3 linked regions of the Homo sapiens genome follow. The protein of the gene in region 1 interacts with the protein of each later gene in a biochemical or structural test. Each region holds a gene or a part of one and is shown on either strand. Other genes may lie near its edges.

The links.
Region 2: of the proteins of CHEK2 (region 1) and STRAP, one has a biochemical effect on the other in vitro, tested with the Homo sapiens proteins (one study listed by BioGRID and IntAct).
Region 3: the proteins of CHEK2 (region 1) and CALM1 form a complex in vitro, tested with the Homo sapiens proteins (one study listed by BioGRID).

Annotation. Positions count from the first base shown.
Region 1 is NC_000022.11:28,735,321-28,738,820, reverse strand, and holds part of CHEK2 (serine/threonine-protein kinase Chk2), read left to right. Parts: exon of another isoform or gene 1-1,537; coding exon of another isoform or gene 1,538-1,561; intron 1,562-3,500. UniProt on the Homo sapiens protein: Serine/threonine-protein kinase which is required for checkpoint-mediated cell cycle arrest, activation of DNA repair and apoptosis in response to the presence of DNA double-strand breaks.
Region 2 is NC_000012.12:15,888,757-15,892,485, reverse strand, and holds part of STRAP (serine-threonine kinase receptor-associated protein), read right to left. Parts: intron 2,559-3,729; coding exon 2,477-2,558; intron 1,890-2,476; coding exon 1,817-1,889; intron 1-1,816. UniProt on the Homo sapiens protein: The SMN complex catalyzes the assembly of small nuclear ribonucleoproteins (snRNPs), the building blocks of the spliceosome, and thereby plays an important role in the splicing of cellular pre-mRNAs.
Region 3 is NC_000014.9:90,403,381-90,407,109, reverse strand, and holds part of CALM1 (calmodulin-1), read right to left. Parts: intron 3,249-3,729; coding exon 3,142-3,248; intron 2,732-3,141; coding exon 2,596-2,731; intron 2,422-2,595; coding exon 2,393-2,421; 3' UTR 1-2,392. UniProt on the Homo sapiens protein: Calmodulin acts as part of a calcium signal transduction pathway by mediating the control of a large number of enzymes, ion channels, aquaporins and other proteins through calcium-binding. Calcium-binding is required for the activation of calmodulin.

The sequences.
Region 1 (3,500 bases):
TTTTAGCTTGATGAAATCCCAGTTGTCTGTTTTTGCTTTAGTTGCCTGTGCTTTTGAGGTCTTACGTAAAAACCCTGTGCCCAAAAAACCTGTGCCCAAGATGAGTGTCCTGGAGCACTTCCCCAGTGTTTTCTTCTAGTAGTTTTATAGGTTTTGGGACTGGATTTCTGTCTACAGTCCTGGAGTTTTGCTGCCCTCACTTTGGTTTTTCACTCACTTCTCTGCATGGCTTTCCAATAGCAATAGCTCCCAGATAGCAAGCATGGGTGGGTGGGGGGAGTATTACATGCGTCACTTCACTTAATCCTCATGGTCTGTCTACTTATTTTCAGATGAGAAAACAGGTTTAGAGAAGTTGTGATCTACCTAAAGTCATGCACAGTTTCACTCAAGTGTCTGACTCCAGATCCGCTTGCCTCTAATCTCTCATAGTAACTTGTTGACACATTTTCTCCAGTTGTCCTGTCTTGCTTAAAAAGCTGTGGGGAAGACTCAGCCTGGCTCAGGTAGTATTAGACCAGCAGTCCCTGGTGTGGCATACTCAGTTTTGGCATTGCCTTCCTGGTATGTTTTAAAGAAAACTCATCAGAACCTTTGTATCTTTTTTATTTTCCTTGAGACAGGGTCTCGCTCTGTCACCCAGGCTGGAGTGCAGGCTCGATCACGGCTCACTGCAGCCTCAACCTCCTGGACTCAAGTGATCCTCCCACCTCAGCTTCCCAAGTAGCTGGGACTACAGGTGCACACCACCATGCCCTGCTAATTTTTTGTATTTTCTGTAGATACTGGATTTCACCATGGTGCCCAGGCTGGTCTTGAATTCCTGGGCTCAAGCAATCTACCTGCGTTGGCCTCCCAAAGTGCTGGGATTACAGACATGAACCACCACACCTGGCAGAACCTTTGTATCTTGAAAGCTGTGTAAATACAATCAGTGTGGGTATCTTAGTCCCTCCTTATCAGCGGTAGTAGTTTCACTTACCAATGGTCAGCTGCGATCTGAAACTATTAAGTGGAAAATTCATAAGAAATAGTCAATTCATGGCTGGGCATGGTGGCTCAGGCCTGTAATCCTAGCAGTTTGGGAGGCTGAGGTGGACCTGAGGATCACCTGAGGTCTGCAGTTTGAGACCAGGCTGGCCAATACGGTGAAAACCCTGTCTCTACTAAAAAAAATATACAAATTAGCCGGGCATGGTGGTGTGCGCCTGTAATCCCAACTACTTGGAAGGCTGAAGCAGGAGAATTGCTTGAACCCAGGAGGTGGAGGTTGCAATGAGCCAAAATTGTGCCACTGCACTCCAGCCTGGGTGACTGAGACTCCGTTTCAAAAAAAAAAAAAAAAAGAAATAATCAGTTCATAAGTCTTAAATTACATGGTTTTGCAGTGCTTGTGTTCATGTCACCCTTATATTTAATAATGGCCCCAAAGCAAAAGATGCTGGCAATTTGGATATTGTAAAGAGAAGCTGTAAAGTGTTTCCTTTTACTGAAAAGGTGAAAGATCTCAATTTAATATGGAAATAAAAAAATTTGTATGCTGAGGCTGCTAACGTCTATGGTAAGAACTAATCTTCTATTTGTGAAATTGTGAAGAAGGAAAAAGAAAGTTGTGCATAATTTATATAGGGTTCTGTACTATGCGAGGTTTCAGGCATCCACTGGGGGGTCTTGGATCTTATCCCCCTCTGATGGTGGGGACTACTATAGTGTTGTTTCCTATGTTCTCCTAGAGTAGTAGCCTGAGTTTGGGGAGGAAGAGAATGCCCTCCTCTCCCTCCCTTTTTTTTGTTAATCCGATTAGGTCAGCAGTGGATGTTACTTTGATTTTACTGGTGGTTCTGTTATCAGAGTCTTGGTTTGTTTTCTGTTCTTTGGAGATAGGGTCTCACTCTGCCACCCAGGCTGGTATGTAAGTGGTATGATCATAGCTCACTGCAGCCTTCAACTCCTGGGCTCAAGTGATCCTCCCACCTCACCTTCCTGAGTAGCTGAGCCCACAGCTGCATGCCATCATGTCTAATTTTCTTATTTTTTGTACGGGGGGCGGGGGGGGTCCCACTATGTTGGCCAGGCTGGTATTGAACTCGTGGCCTCAAGTGGTCCTCTTGCCTTGGCCTCCCAAAGTGCTGGGATTACAGGTATGAGCCACTGCACCCAGCCTGTTATGACAGTCTAACTGTCTATCAGGTTAATTCTAAGACAAGGGTGGAAGCCTCTGTTACGGTCTCCAGTTTATAAAAGAATGGTTCCTGCAAGATTACATCAAGGCCGGAAGGCCATTTAGGATGCTGAAAAGATAAGCCCTATGGTTATTTAGCATCACAAAGGGATAGGTGGAGTTGTTAAGAGCTGTCTTCCTTTGTGTTCTGCCTCATTAAGTCACTGGGTCCTTAGGTGTCAGGGAATATAGATTGAACGAACAGGTGTGTTTCACTTTAGGAGCAAGCCTGGGGGAAAAGGGGTACCAGTGACATTTTATGTAAATGGACCCTTTGGAGTAATGCAGCAGGTTATTGTACAATTTCTTTTTGACTTTTATATCAAGCCACCTGATTTTTTGTCTTCTTTTGCTTTCCAAAGTACACAGATGCTCCTCAACTTTCAATGGCATTATGTCTAAATAAAACCATTCTAAGTTGAAAATATTGTTAAATTGAAATTACATTTAATACACCTAAGATACCAAACGTCATAGTTTAGCCTAGCCTCCTTTAAACATGCTCAGAACACTTATGTCAGGGTACAGTTGGGCAAAATTATCTAACACAAAGATTATTGTTATTATTTTTTGTAGAGGTGGGGTCTCAAACACCTGCCCTCAAGCAATCCTCCTACCTCCACCACCCGAAATATTGGGTTTACAGTTGTGAGTCACTGCACCTGGCCTATTTTATTTTATTTTAAAATTTTATTTATTTAATTAATTAATTTTTTTGAGACAGGGTTTCACTCCTGTCACCCAGGCTGGAGTGCAGTGGCGCGATCTCAGCTCAGTGCAACCTCTGCCTCCTGGGCTCGAGCAATTCTCCTGCTTCAGCCTCCTGAGTAGCTGGAACTACAGGCGCCTGCCACCACACCCGGCTAATTTTTGTATTTTTAGTGGACACGGGGTTTGACTGTGTTGGCCAGGCTGGTCTTGAACTCCTGATCTCAGGTGATCTACCTGCCTTGACCCCCCAGAGTTCTGGGATTATAGGTGTGAGCCACTGCACCTGGCCACCTGGCCTATTTTATAATAAGGTGTTAAATATCTCATGTAATTACTTGAATACTGTACTGAAGGTGAAAACCAGAATGGTTATGTGAGGACTTGGAGAAGTAAGTGTCTACTGATTGCTTTCACAGAAAGTCTAAACATTGTTAAATAGAAGCATTGTTAAATTGAGGACTGTATATATGAGTTTTTTTTTTTGAAACGGAGTCTTGCACTGTTGCCCAGGCTGGAGTGCAGTGGTGCAATCTTGGTTCACTGCAACCTCTGCCTCCCGGGCTCAAGC
Region 2 (3,729 bases), on another chromosome or scaffold:
ATACCAAATATATAATAAAACAAAATTATGTTTGTCATGTTTTGGTAGCTAAGTATATATATGGTGAGGGAAATTATTAAAATATTATAAAATAAACATGTAGACTGGGGAAGACACCTATAACTTCTGTAAAATGAGAGAATGCATAAAGAATTTCACCACCAAAATGTTAAAAACATATATACCATAAAACCACCTTAACAAAATTTAAAAGCAAATGATAAATTAGAATTCAATAAAGAACCTTTAAAAACCAGTAAGAAAAACATGAATAACACAACAGATAAATGGACAAAAGGTAGACAGGCAATTATTCCATAAAAAAGGGAATATATTAAAATGGTATTCAATAGCATTTTAATCTCATGAATATTCACATTAATACAACAGAATTATTTTCTTAAATTGACAAAGAGAAAGTTAGTTATCAGTGCTCACTAGAACATGTTGGGTATAGATACATACATATATACCCATACTTTGTTGGAAGACACTTTGGTAGTATCTATCAATGGCTTCCAACAATTCATTTTTTTTTTTTCTTTTTGAGAAGGAGTTTTGCTCTTGTCCCCCAGGCTGGTATGCAATCTCGGCTCACTGCAACCTCTACCTCCCGGGTTCAAGCGATTCTCCTGCCTCACCCTCCTGAGTACCTGGGAATTACAGGCGCCTGCCACCATGCCCAGCTAATTTTTTTGTACTTTTAGTAGAGATGGGGTTTCACCATGTTGGCCAGGCTGGTATTGAACTCCTGACCTCAGGTGATCCACTCACCTTGGCCTCCCAAAGCACTGGGATTACAGGCGTGAGCCACTGCGCCCGGCCACCTTCCAACAATTCCACTCCTCTTTGTCCCACCAATTCTACTTTTGCTTAGTTATCTTAAGGAAATCATTGTGAAAATATTTGCAACTGTAAGGATGTTTAGCATAATACTGCTTTTCATATTTAAAATCTGTAAGTAGCCCAAACGGGCCAAAACAGGAAACTAGTTAATTCACTTATGATATAACCACAGGATGGAAAACCAGAAAGTCATTACAAACAGTTCATAGACTATTTAGTGAAATGAAAAAACTGTAACTGCAGATTTTTTAAAATTCTTTCGAATAGCTAATATATTTACATGGTTCAAAAATCTAAGCAATATGTGCACACAACTGAGAATTCTCACCATCACCAACTTCTATAAATAACCAATCTTTCTTACCAAAAAATAGTAACACTGTTCTGCACTGTTTTAAAACTTAATGATAAAAATTTGCCATAATAAATTTTCAGTTTGGAAGAAGGTTATACAATAGCAACATAGCAAATAAACTTATTTTTTAAAAACTGTGCAGAAAAAAAGACTGAAAGTTTATAAACCAAAAACTGATGAATTACGTTTTAATTTTCTTCTTTGTTGACTATTTTTTTTTTTTTGAAACTGAGTTTCACTCTTATTGCCCAGGCTGGAGTGCAGTGGCGCAATCTCGGCTCACTGCAACCTCCACCTCCCGGGTTCAAGCGATTCTCCTGCCTCAGCCTCCCAAGTAGCTGGGATTACAAGCGCCTGCCACCATGCCTGGCTAATTTTTCTATTTTTAATAGAGACGGGGTTTTGCCATGTTGGCCAGGCTGGTCTCGAACTCCTGACCTCAAGTGATCCACCCGCCTCAGTCTCCCAAAGTGCTAGGATTACAGGTATGAGCCACCGTGCCCGGCCATGACTATCTTTATTTTCCAAATTTGAGTACTGAGCATGAAATTCTTTAATCAGTTATTTAAATTAAAAGAAAATAAAACTAGAAGCTGATGTTTAAATTATGCTTACCTGCTTCAGGTTTGTTCAAGTCATATATGCGTAACAGTTTATCCTGTCCCCCGGTTAACAAATAATTACTATCCTGAAAACACAAAGTAAAATGTGAATAGATTAACCATTTTAATAGTTATTTCTCTTTCAAATTTCAACACCAAATAAAATCAAAATCTAGCTCACAGACATCACAAAGAGATGCCAAGACATAACCAATTACTTCTGAGAAGATACTGTGGAACAGCTGACCTCTCATAACTGCCAAGACTTGTAAGCTTTCCACTTCAAAAGCGTTACACTACACTACATATACATGAACTCTCCCATTCTCCCCTGATCCTACTCCTCTCCCTTGTGAGAGGCCCTTTTCTGATTATCTCAAATTTATCTTCTCCCTTCTATTAGTAGTTGGGGAAGGCTACTTGAGCTTTTCAGATGTTTTTTACATGTTGAAGGACTGGTACTCGTTCCACAGTATCTTAAAAGCTTGACAGGATTAACTATGAAACAAATTCATAGAGCTTAATACACAATCAAATCAAATATGAACCAAGAAATAACAAATATTCCACACAAAACATATCAATCAAATATACACACCAATCAAGTATAAAAGCATTATCACACTATGTACCAGCAACTTAACTCGCTAAAATAAATTCCATTTTCTGATACCTGCGTGAAATCCACAGTCTTGACAATGTGTTTATGAGCCAGGGTCATCAATTCATCTCCTGAGACAGCATCCCACACTTTGCTAAAAGTAAAAAAGAGAAAATTAGTAGGATAAATATTACCCAATATATTAAAAGGATAAATACAATTATAATATTGATGAGTACCAAATAAGTTAGATATGTGAAATGTTACATAAATGTATTATAAATCTCCTTTATCTCTAATATCCCTCACAGACTTCATTTGATAAAATATTTAAATAAGCTTAAGGGAAAAGAAATTTCTCTGTAAAAACTTTATAACCAATCTAATTTTCTTTGACAGTGGAAAAGATATGAACAATTTAAGCAAGTAAGATTCATGAACCAACCCATCCTCCTTACTTTTATTTTAGCTGACAGCCATAATATCCCTTTAGCAAGCCTGTCATACATTTTAACCAATTTTTAGTTTCACCATGCCAATTTTTTCTCTATTCTCCACTCAGATGCACAATAAAAAATAAAAATAAATAAAAAAACCAGAAATCCTTAAAAATGTTACAAGGGAATGAAAAGCCTTGGTACAGGCTAAGTAAAATTTTAAATTAAGATAGTGGAGAGACAATGTCCACTTCATCTCTTCTTCAAAGCTGACTTAAAATTTCAAACTCTAGTACAGTTAACTTCCCCCAAACTATCAGCCTTTGATTATATAATGCTAACACTGACTATTTTAATCTTTACATTGTTTTTTCTGTCCCACCCCACCCCAAAATACAAGTTGGTTATAGGTATACATACATTTATATGTGTATGTATATTCTGGGCGGGTAATAGTTGAGCAATACTTTACAAAATTACTCTAAAAGGGTTCCCCCAAATAAAAAAGCTTAAGGAAGGGGGAAAAAAAAGTTGATTTTAGATCAGAACAGGTCAGTGAAAAATAAACAAGAAAACTTTGCAGACAGGGAAAAGAATTGCTAAGAGTGAAAAAGCTATGTTCCATAGAGATTTCCATTTTAATGCAACTGCTATTTATTTTCAGGAACACAGTGGGCAATAAAATGGTAGAGGGAAAAAAATCAGAGAAAAGCAAGATGTATCTTTTCTTTTGCTTACCCCAATACATAATAAAATATATTAAATATATATCATTCTATACTTAGTGCTAAGGCACAAATGGGAGACAAAAAATACCCCACAGTAGGTTCTTGCCATAGTAGAGCTTTAGCTGAGGAGAAAAACATGCATTAAATATCACATTTAAGA
Region 3 (3,729 bases), on another chromosome or scaffold:
TCCCTGGAGGGGGAGGGTGTAGGGTTTCTGGTTCCCAGACAGGATCCTGGCCATACAAGAATCCTGTTTCAAAGGTAGTCTTTTAGGATACGCTGCAGGACCACTAAGAGTCCACCCAGCTTCTAAAGACTTGAGGGTTAGAAGGCTACATTTCGAAAAAACAAGTCAAATATCCCCCTCCAGCCCCCTTTGAAACTACCGAGAGGTCATCGACCACAGGCCTGAGACTGGGTCAGCAATCAGGCTCTTTGACCACCCCCTGCCACAAGAAATATCCAGGACATTAACTTACTCAAACCAGGAACCCTATCTCACCAGAAGAGAAACCCCAAGGTAACCTTAGGCATTCCTTTCAGATTCAGGTAATTACAAAAGCCAACCCTTAGCTCATAGTGTCAACATCTCCTCTACCAACCACCCAGCCCAAGGACCAGTAGCAGAAGCACATGGGCGATGTCTCCCCTCCACTGCTCTGACCCACCCCTCTGGCAGAAAATCTAACAAGCTACAAAATGCCAGAAAGACAGGGAGTAGGAGAAGGAGAAGCCAAGGGTCTCTATAAATCAGCCCTGAATGCACCCATTTGGCTGCCAAGAGCTTCTCACTGCCTTGCTAGCAGCCTGCCACTGTTCCCTGGCAAATTGAAACCACCCACGCAAACACTCAAAACCCCAATCTCCTTGCTAATAAGATACAACCAGTTAACACCGTGAAAAATGCACATCTCCAGCCTTCATTTCAAAAAAGAGCTCTGTACTAAATGCAATATGCTTTTAAAGGGGGTTTTACAGGGACCAATCTCAATGCAAAGACCAGTACCAGATGTCTGAGTTTTGGTTACAGGTTTATAATTAGACACAAAATTCACTCCACACTGGAGTTTTACTTTCAAGCTGGAAGCTAGCATTAGTTCTACTTGGGGGGAAAAAAGCAAAGTCAAGTCAACTTGGGAAAAAAAAAAAAAGGAGGAGGAGGCTAAGTATAATCATAAATTAAAAGTCGCGAATCAAAGGTGACTGGTAGTGTCTTTTAGGCATGAAGAGACTGGCTTACAAAAGTGACTACTGCTTCTACCACACACAGCGAAGATTGAATTACAGACACACTAAATCATGTCTCTTGCAGATGGTCTCAAGTAGTTACATAAGACAGGTAATCAGCAGCACAATTGAGAACAACCCCTAAATACATGCTTGAGAGAAAGTGGGTTTTTTTTTTTCCTTAAGAGCTCTACTGCCTGAATAGATCATTAAAAGTTACCATAATTCACCTTCCCCCCTCCCCCCAGTGAAAATGCAACTAGACCTACATGTCCATAAATAGGATGAAGCAATCGGTATCTGCTTGTTTTCAGGCAAGGTCTTGGGCTCAGAGGTTGGTGCTGGGGCCTTGGGAGGGAAACCCAATGCTGGGCTGTGGGCATTTACATGTACACTGGCCTCCCCTCCACCTGCCTTGTCCCCATTTAGATCTCAGCTTTACAAAGCATTTAACACCACTTTAAGTTAATGGTCTTTTTATTGGAAAAAAAAAAAAAAAGACTAGCATTTACAACTTGGAATGGACGTAAACTGTAATTTCTTTGAACAGCAATGTTGATGGTTGTGCTGAAGTCCACAGCCACAGCCTACTCTGCCGGCTCCAAGTCATGGTTCAGAAGGTTTTAAAAACAGAGAGTCCAAAGATGCTCCCTTGGTAAATGTTTCTTATTAAAAATTTGTGTGAACAGTGACAGCCTGACACCTGTTTCACTCTAGAACAATGCAGACAACGCTAAACCAACATACACGGGCATGCCACCAGGGTGTGTCATCGTCACCATGGGTCGGAGCACACGAAGTACAAGAGGACCATCCTACCAGTGGGGCCACGTCTCAACGGTTTATCCTTCACCCATTTTTCTGCACGTCATCCTGAGGTAAACCAATTTTAAATGTGTTTGTTTTCAGTAAACCAGCTATGACAATTTATACTAAACAAATTGAACTAGAACCCATTTGAATAGGTTTTGAATTTGTTTTTTCATTTTTCATTTTTAATACAAAGGCCTGACTGTGCTCAATCGTCAAGCTGCATGCATGAAAAACTGGCCAGCCCAAACAGTGTATTAATCATTAGCAAATGGAACTTTAAGGAGTCCTTATCATTAAGGTAGTACAAGTATTTATATTGTAAAACTGATGTGTAGCTTGATCTTTAGGGGACAGGACCACCAACCAATACATGCAGATTTTGTGTGTGTGGACAGAAGGTACTTTTGACATTCAGTTTTGCTATATAGAAACAGAATGAATAAATGAACTTTTTTCTTTTTTCTTTTTTTTGCAAGAGGTAAGTAAAAGATTCAATTTGATTCTTCTAGAGGGGGGAAAAAGGAGTTGAAAGTAGGTCTTCATTTTGCAGTCATCATCTGTACGAATTCTGAAAAGACAAATATAATAGTAACTTTTGGTTATCTTTGAAAACAGCTTTAATGAACACAACATCTTTACTGTACATAAAATAAAGTCAAAGGCTGTCTAGTGAAGCAGTTGGCTTGCTTACAGATCTAAAGGTAAGACTATGAAACACTGAGCTCAGAGAATTTAGTTTTACCTTCATAGTTGACTTGTCCGTCTCCATCAATATCTGCTTCTCTGATCATTTCATCTACTTCTTCATCTGTTAGTTTTTCTCCTAAGTTTGTCATGACGTGACGTAGTTCTGCTGCACTGATATAACCATTGCCATCCTGTGAACATTCAGCAATTGTTATTGCTAATGATGTAGTGTGGGGAAGTAGGTCTTTGACTTAGCTATGCCCTCTCAAGTTACTGCTAACTCTGCTGCCATAAACAATTCTCTGATCTCTAGTTCCCACCTCTAACCTACTAAATACATGCAAACAGCTAATGCAGAAAACAGGATTTGCAAAAGCTCACAACAATTCAAAGTAACAGTCAAGAAACATGGTCCAAAATTCCTATTTATTATGCCTACCCTCCCCTGATACGGTTACCATAAGGAGGATTTTTGAAAGTGAGATCAGAGGCTCAGGCAGTTAGATTTAAGTCTTCTGTCTATAACATTATTATAGCTTTTAGAAGTGAAAGCGGAAGAAGCCATACTTAAGTACCATCTGCTATGTAGATGCTGGATTACCTTGTCAAAGACTCGGAATGCCTCACGGATTTCTTCTTCACTATCTGTATCTTTCATTTTTCTAGCCATCATAGTCAAAAATTCGGGGAAGTCAATGGTGCCATTACCTCGAATTAAAAAACAAAAAGCTCATGTAAAGTAAGCACTCCATTAACGCTGCTCTGCAGTAATCATTTCAGAACCACTGTACGGAACGGTAAACATGTACTAGGACAAAGGGGCAGACTATCTTACTAGGTTCAATCATCTGCAGGTCTAAAACGTTCAAACACTTCACAGGGCAATTTCACATAATTTCAAACTCATCATCAGTGCCCAGGATAGTATTTAATTATACAAAGGAAACTGCACATCTGGATTCAAGCCCATGGAAGGGTCATGAAGGGCTGTACAGTTCAAGAGAAAAATAGCATACACCACTCCGCAGGCTGAATCTTTCCACTCCGAGGGAAGAAAGCGCCCCCGACTGCCATCCCTGAGTTAGGGAAATCACTCAGGTCTCACTCTGCCTTGGTTAGTGACAGCAGTAACACAAAAAAGGCCTAGAACTGAGCTGCAGGTTAAGTGTATAAAGTGTTTCAGAGGAGA